2 separate regions of the Homo sapiens genome follow, and region 1 is reported to be linked to region 2. Evidence: microRNA targets listed by miRTarBase, many of them from high-throughput screens and not tested one by one. Region 2 holds a microRNA gene; the other region holds the end of a gene's coding sequence.
Evidence for each region. Region 2 holds the annotated microRNA hsa-miR-6508-5p (UCUAGAAAUGCAUGACCCACC, at 2,029-2,049, shown strand). A microRNA usually pairs through its seed, bases 2 to 8, with sites in the 3' UTR of a target mRNA and lowers its output. Matches are read on the target gene's strand: a 7mer-m8 pairs with bases 2 to 8, a 7mer-A1 pairs with bases 2 to 7 and ends in A, and an 8mer does both.

Region 1 (4,000 bases), not on the chromosome of region 2:
AGGTCTTGCAATTTGTAGGACTAAGTCATCAATATCCAGGTCCTTATTTCTTGGCCTGCCTCCTGTTCTGGCCAGAAAATCAAGAGCTAGATCAAGATTCCAAACTAATAGAAAAGTATGTTTCATCCTTAAATAGATCCTTCAGGGGACAGTACAAGCGCATGTGCAGGTCCAAGCAGGCAAGCACACTTTTCTATCTGGGCAAAAGGAAGGGTCTAAACAGTATTGTTCACAAGGCCAAAATAGAGCAGTACTTTGATAAAGCACAAAATACAAATTCCCTCTGGCACAGTGGGGATGTGTGGAAAAAAAATGAAGTCAAAGACCTCCTGCGTCGTCTAACTGGTCAGGCTGAAGGCAAGCTAATCTCTGTAGAATATGGAACAGAGGAAAAAATAAAAATACCAGTAATATCTGTTTATTCAGGTCCACTCAGAAGTGGTAGGAACATAGAAAGAGTGTCTTTCTACCTAGGATTTTCCATTGAAGGCCCTCTGGCATATGATATAGAAGTAATTTAAGACAATACATCACCTGTAGTTCAAATACGTTTATTTATATCTTTATGATTTTATTCTCTCTCTCTATTCTCATGGCACTTTCATAACATTATGGCTAACCTCTAATTACAGATTTTGCTTTTGCCTCCCTGAATGAATTACAAGCCTTTTTAAGATATGAAATATGCCTACCCGCAGAGCTTGGCACAAAGTGGAGTCAATCTTTTAATGTTTTAAATATGCATTTTCAGACTCAAATAATTAAGAAGTTTCATTGATATCCACTGGTCACATCATAACTGTCTATAGGGCAATAAAATCTGTGTTAAACTCAATTGCTTTTATAAGTTTTCTAAATTATTTCTTCACTGTGACAGCAAAGATTTAAATAAGATGAATGTAAAAGAGAAAGCTTATTGGACTCAAACCCACAGATCCACACCAGAGTTCTATTTACCTCATCTTGGTATCAATAAAAACTTATGTGGAAGGTAAATATATTGTTCCCCATCCACCACATAACACTCTCCCCAACACACACACACACACACACACACACACACACACACACACACACTCCTTGTACCCCTTGCCCTTCTCCCAGCTCATTGCTCCAGGAGAGAGAAGAGTTCAAAAAATAAAGTAATCATAAACTTGAACTCTCTCCATTCTCTTGTTCCCATTTACAGGTGAATCTCTTCCTTTAAGCCATTTTTGTCTCCTGTGAATACAGCCTTATCTCCACCTGTTTCTTAGATCCCATCTCCCCTGGCTTATTTTTTCCATTCATTACCCTCTTTGTTCCCTTTACTTCTCAACCTGTGCTATATACATGCTGTTCTCTCTGTTGAGATTGCCTTATTTCCATCTAACATTCTCTCTCCTGCTATTCTGATTTGTCATTCACAACTGATTTCAAGAGTCACCTTCACCAGGAAGTCTTCCTTGACCACCATCATTCCTGCCTGATTAGAGGGCTTCCTCATGGTAATATGTGTTCTCAAGTTTTCAGTGTCAAGGAATGCCATCCCAGAAGCTCATTCTCAGATGCACAACAGCCAGAACAGTCTCAAGCAGCATTCTAGAGCTTGGAATTTAAGAACTACGCATTGCCTATAAAGTGAAACATAGGCTAATATAGATTAAATTGAATATTGAATAAAAAATATATTTATTTATCCACATCTTTGTATCTCTTTGTAATGTAACTTAGATATTCTGGACTCCAAACCCAATTCTTCTTGTCATCAAGAAGTCTATGCTCTATCAGGGTTCTTCTGGCCTATATTTCTATGAATCTGGGCAACGCTCACATGGTCCAGAACATGTCCCTCTTTCTGAAAGCTGTGTCTGCTGCTGACCCTGCTCCAAACAGTTGCCTCCCTCTTCTGCAGTCCACCAGTCCATACAGTAACAGGATCTCCCAAGTGGCTATACTCCCCAAGTTGTTCATAGGCCTGGGGACATAGGCCTGATCCTATTTCTTTTAAACTCCCCTGCTGGACTATAACATTTAGTAAGACATAACTAAAGGCTTGATGTAGAGAAAAAAGTTATAATGAAAGGAGGAAAAACTACTAAATATTCCTGCTAACCATAATTATCTTTAGAGTTAATAATTCTGACCCCACCACCAGGTATCTTAGAGAGCTTCCTTCTCCTTAGCCCCCATTTCAACAGCCATGCTATAGAGTGATCTTTTCTCATTCTTCTGAATGCAACAACACCTAAACGTGAATGCTTGACTTAGAGAGTAGGATGCAAACCCTTTGATGCCCCCAGAAATAATTACATTCTTCCTGAAAAGAAATATAGTGTAATATGCAAAATGTCACCCCACCCTTAATGAGGAGAAGGTCTTACATTACTCTGCAGAGAAGTTTATGAACCTCAAAAATCTGAGACAGGTCTCAGTTAATTTAGAAAGTTTATTTTGCCAAGGTTGAGGATGTACATCTGTGACACAGCCTCAGAAGGTCCTGATAACATGTTCCCAAGGTGCACAGCTTGGTTTTATATATTTTAGGGAGACATGAGACATCAATCAATATATGTAAGATGTACATTGGTTCCGTCCAGAAAGGAGGGACAACTCAAGAAGGGAGGGAGCTTCCAGGCCACAGGTAGGTGAGAGAAAAACAGTTGCATTCTTTTCAGTTTCTGATTAACCTTTCCAAAGAAGGCAATCAGATATGCATTTTCCTCAGTGAGCAGAGGGATGACTTTGAATAGAATGGGAAGCAGGTTTGCCCTAAGCAGTTCCCAGCTTGACTTTTCCCTTTAGGTTAGTGATTTTGGGGGGCCCAAGATTTTCAAGATTTACTTTCCTTTCACATTTCCCCCCTTATCTTTTTTAAAATCTTCGGAGAAAGCATTTTAGAAGAAAATGAGTCTCTGGTCTCAGGTTTCATCTGGCCTCTCATGGCTAAAATGGTTCATTCCTAGACAGTTAGGTCCCAAGTTATTAGGAAAGCTTATTTTTAGCAAGTTGAGAAGTCTCATGTCCTATGCAGAGAAAACAGGGGGAGAGAGAAAAACTACAAGATATAAAAGAACAATCCTGGTAAATCGATATAGGTCACATTACTCTGAAGCCCGTATATCAGTAGGCAGGTTTGAAAGTGGCTTATGTATGTAAATAGGCTGCTGTTATTTCCTTTTGAAGTTTAAGTTATCTAGCATCAGGTCACAGGGCTTTACAAAAGCACAACTTAGTTTTCAGTGACTCCAAATGAGGAAAAATGGGGGGAAAAAGAAGGGAAAAAAATGAAAACATTATTTTGAAAACTTGTACCCAAGAAACATTAGAATTCAGCCCAAACTGTAGAAAATAATAAAAATTGAAAAATATTAGGCAAGACTAGAATCCAACAACAGATGTACCATAGTTTTTGAAACATAATTTTTCTCTCTCCAGTTTCCCATTTTTACTAAAGACACATCATGGTAGGACCGATTTGCTTTGTTGCACTTAGCCAGATTATTTGTATAAAGTGCAGCAAGAATAATTATTTTTCACATAGGCTTTTTAAATTGGCTTTGATGGAACTTTGTTCCATAGAAGGCATCTCAGATCAGCCTTTATTTTTTGTTTTTGGGTTTTTTTTTTTTTGCGATGGAGTCTCGCTCTGTCACCCAGGCTGGAGTGCAATGGTGCAATCTCAGCTCACTGCAACCTCTGCCAACTGGGTTCAAGTGATTCTCCTGCCTCAAACTGCCCAGCCATGTTTTATACCATCAAATACCTATGAGTTGGGTGAATTCTTCTCCCCTTGAGGTCCCAAGATAACTTGGGGCCCTGGGCCTGTCATAAAGTGTCATTCTTTATTTACCACAGGTCAGGAACCCTGTGCAGGGACTGTGTAGACAAGGTATAAGGCCAGTTTTCCCAAAAATCTTTTATTGGCTCTTTAGGGCAAGTTTGATTCTTTAAAGGAAAGCATGTCATTCCAGTCACAGCCTTGGTAAAATAACCAGTTTCTCCAATTGTGTCCTGTTAC
Region 2 (4,000 bases):
GCACACTTGGGGCTCACTGGAATTCAGATAGGCTCTGAGTACAGGCGACTGGATGAGTTCATCTAGGGATTGAGTGTAGACAGAAAAAAGGCTCAAGCTCACATTCAGCCGTGAAAACTGGTCTCTGAAAAAAGTTAACCGTTGGCTTAAGTGTGGCAACGAAACGTTAACACGCTGAGGGGAGGGTGTGGATAAAGAGCCCCGAGGCTGGGTGAGTGGGGGACAAACACAGACAGAGAAGACATTTCAAAAGATTTAGATTCCTACGAGATAGGGAGATGCCAGCGCTAAGGTTAGAAAGAAAAACTAATCCAAAGCAAAACAGCAAGTAAGCAGAGGCAAAATCGGAGGTCAGATAGAAGATTCAGATAGAAAAACCCCAAAGTTCCCTCGGTGGGGCGGCGGTGAGATCGGCCTCCGCCCCCTCGCCAGACCCAGGCGCGGCCCCGGGAGCGCTAGGTCACCTCGGCCCAGGCCGTCCCCCTGCCCAGCGGGCCTGAGAGTACGTGTGTCGCCGGGGCGCCCGGTCACTGCCGAGCCGGGGTAGCTGTTCCTTGGCAAACTGTGCCGCGAGGAGGAAACGGCGGGGCGCCAGCGAGGCAGGCAGGGGCGAGGACTGAGTGACCGGCGATACTGGAAGCCCAGAAAGAGCGTAGCAGGAGGGTCCGGAAGGGCCCAGAGCTGGGGCTGTAACAGGGTAACCGGCTGAGGGGGACGACGGCAGCAGCGGGGCCGTTACCTGCTCCGCGCTGTTCCCACGACTGCGCCAACGCCGCAGCGCCGGCGCGTCCCCATGGAAACCCGCGCGCGGGGCCTCCTGGGAAGCGCCGGCCTGCGGGGGCTGGGCGCGCGCATGCGCACTCGGGCAGCAGGAGCCGCGGCGGGGAGGGGCGTCTTGGGCCTGGAGGTCAGTGTGGCCTCGCGTTTGTCTTCGGTGACGGGAAGTGAGTTTCTTGTGTAGACGTCTGTAAACGATCCTCCTGCCGTCCCTGTTCGGCGCCCGGGACCCTGCCTTCCCGCGTGGCCGCACCGAGACGAGGGAGCCTGTCACGCGCTCTGGCGCTCTCCTGACCTCTTAAGGCTCTGTCAGTCTTAGGTAACTTGAGTCAGTAGGTGGGTGTAGACGCCTGGTCAATTCCTGGGAAGCACAGTTCCCCTATTAACCCCTTGTCATAAAGACGATTTTTTTTTTTTTTTTGTAAAACAAAATCTGATGACAAAACAATGCATGTTTGGCATAGAGAATTTAGAAATGTACAGGCAAGTCCAAAGCAAAAGTCAAAATCACCTAGATGATGGAGTTATAGATGTTTTTTAATGACAGCATAGGAATTTGGCATAATTTAGGAAGACTTACATTGTTTCCTTTTATTTATTTACTTTTTTTCCTGCATCAAAGCCATGTTGAATATCCTTGCAGATGAATCTTTGAGGTCACCCCTGACTGTTTCCTTAGGATAAATTCCTACAAGCGAGGTTGCAGGGCCAAAGCATATGCTCACTTTGAGGCTTTCTAAAGGTAGAGGGAAACTGCCTTCCAGTAAGTGTCCCGATACTTGGCCCGCATTGGAAATTCTCTTTTTTCTTAAAATTTTTTTGCCCATTTTATTGTCAAAAATTGGCATCTTTAATTGTATTCACTTCCTTTTTAGTAGGAAGAATAGACTTTTTCCCATATCTTGAGTGCCATTTGTCCTTATTGTGTGATTTGCATTTTCCTGTCTTTTGTCCATTTTAAAACTTGACATTCATCTTTGTAAAAATGGGTTTTGTAAGGACTTTTGATGCTTGAAAACTTGGCTTGTGATATACGTTGCAAATATTTCCTCAATTTGTCAGTTACCTTTAATTTTGTTTACAGTGTATTTTGGTATTTGTGTAGAGTCAAGCTTATTACATTTCTCTATAGTTTCTGCATTTGGTTTTTATATAAAAGGAGAAACGGGTGTTTTTTTTCAAATTGACTTTAATCCTACTTTGGTAGAAGTGGGTTAGGACAAGCTTTCTCTCCATATCACCATTTCTTCCTCTAGAAATGCATGACCCACCCTGAGTTTTGGTGGGCCATGCATTTCTAGAACTCCTTAGGTAGGGAATTATCCGTATAAGATGGGTGCCGGTTGTTTTTGCTGGTGGTGGTGGGCGGGGCAACATCTCCAGGTAGGCAAACATTAGACAAATGTCACTCTAGACTTGACATTATGGAAAGATGGGCTGATGCTTGGTGGGTGGTGGTGGCCCCATGACAGTAACGAGAGCGGAGTTTTGCCATTGCGGGAGCATCCAACCCTGGAGCTCATGACTGGAGGAATTGAAAGGTAGAGTTTCCTGAGAATGGTTTCCTCCTCTTTTCTACCAGCTTTTCCCAGTCTGTAGACATGATAAGTCACTGCAAATCTGCCCTTGAATCTTTCTTTGCTTTCGCTTTTGCTTTTTTTTTTTTTTTTTTTTGAGACGTATCACTCTATCGCTCAGGCTGGAATGCAGTGGCGCCATCCCAGCTCACCACAACCTCCGCTTCCTGGGTTCAGGTGATTCTCCTGCATCAGCCTCCTGAGTAGCTGGGATTACAGGTGTGAGTCACAACACCCGGCTAATTCTTTTTGTATTTTTAGTAGAGATGGGGTTTTGCGATGTTGGCTAGGCTGGCCTTGAACTCCTGACCTCAAGTGATCTGCCCGCCTCGGCCTCCCAAAATGTTGGGATTTCAGGCATAAGCCACCGTGCCTGGCCTTTGCTTTTGCTTTCGAAGGGGTGTTCTTTTCTGTGTACACAATGGAAGGAGAAGAGCCATGGCCTTTCACTATTCTGGGGCCATCTCCATCATGCCACATAAAAAGCATAGCCTTTATTTCTCTATATTAGGTTCCTAGGTTCCTAGGGATGTCATAACAGACTACCACGAACTTAGGGGCTTAGAACAATAGAACTTTATCTTCTCACATTTCTGGAGGTCAGAAGTATGAAACCAAGTTGTCTGAAAGTCCATGTTTCCTCTGAAGGCTCTTAGGGAGAATTTTTTGAGTCTTCCAGCTTATGGGGACTCCTGCTATTCCTTGGCTTGTGGCAGCACCACTCCAATTTCTGCTTCCATCTTCACAGGGTGTTCTTCTCTGTGTCTCCCTGTCTTGTCTTCTTATAAGGACAACCAGTCATTGGACTTAGGGCCCACCCTAAATCCAGGATGATTTAATCACAAGACCCCCTCAACTGATTACATCTGTAAAGACTCTATTTCCAAATAAGGTTACATGCTGAGGTTTGGCTGAACATGAATTTTGGTGAACAATATTCAACCCACTACAGTTATTATGGTAATCATTTCCATCATTCTACATAATAAAGACGTGTCTTTATTTGTCATTTTAAGTTATCTGTAAAGTTATGTAAATCAAAACATATCATCTGGTATCATTTATCATGAGATCATCTGGGGGTCTCTATGAAGTTTGTAGCCCAGTACCTCATGTCTTTAAATCAAAATTAATCAAATCAAAAAGTGATGTTATTTGACTTGTTAAAATATACTCCAACAGACGGACAAAATGAACTCCTGTTTCCTAAAATGAGATGCACCAAAAACAGAATGTCCTACTCGGGAGGCTGAGGCAGGAGATGAATGTGGGAGGTGGAGGTTGCAATGAGCTGAGATCAAGCCACTGCACTCCAGCCTGGTGACAGAAACAAACAAAAAACAAACAACAAAACAAAACAAAACCTCCAGAATGTCACAGCCAGAAGGATGAGGGGTTAGTTACGTATTTTTGCATTATTAACTGCTATTAAGTAAGCAGAAACCAGCTTCGAAAAAGCATAGCCAACACAACTTCAGCTGGAAAATTTCCAACTGACCCCGATAGACTGCCTGATGCCAGCCAATGGAAACATTCCCTCCCTCAGTATGCGCCCCCACCCCCAAACGCCTTGCAGACCTACTACAACTCCAGTTGGACAAAGGACTGGTCTTATAAACATTCTTTATTGATAAACAGCTGCAGAC

Region 1: the mRNA of SAMD9L is a reported target of hsa-miR-6508-5p. Seed matches in the 3' UTR shown: 7mer-A1 at 1,580-1,586.

The regions. Positions count from the first base shown.
Region 1 is chr7:93,127,738-93,131,737 of GRCh38, reverse strand. SAMD9L (sterile alpha motif domain containing 9 like) reads left to right here. Exons shown (of 5, transcript NM_152703.5): 5 at 1-1,682. The coding sequence ends at 521. Among named protein-coding and RNA genes, the nearest start is that of SAMD9, 12 kb to the right of the region's middle.
Region 2 is chr21:39,444,986-39,448,985 of GRCh38, forward strand. MIR6508 (microRNA 6508) reads left to right here and starts at 2,025; the gene lies at 2,025-2,084. The region is part of intron 8 of GET1-SH3BGR (GET1-SH3BGR readthrough); the gene reads left to right. It overlaps LCA5L (lebercilin LCA5 like), which reads right to left and starts at 793. Exons shown (of 11, transcript NM_152505.4): 1 at 740-793. It also overlaps a transcript of SH3BGR not described here. RefSeq lists a silencer at 704-963.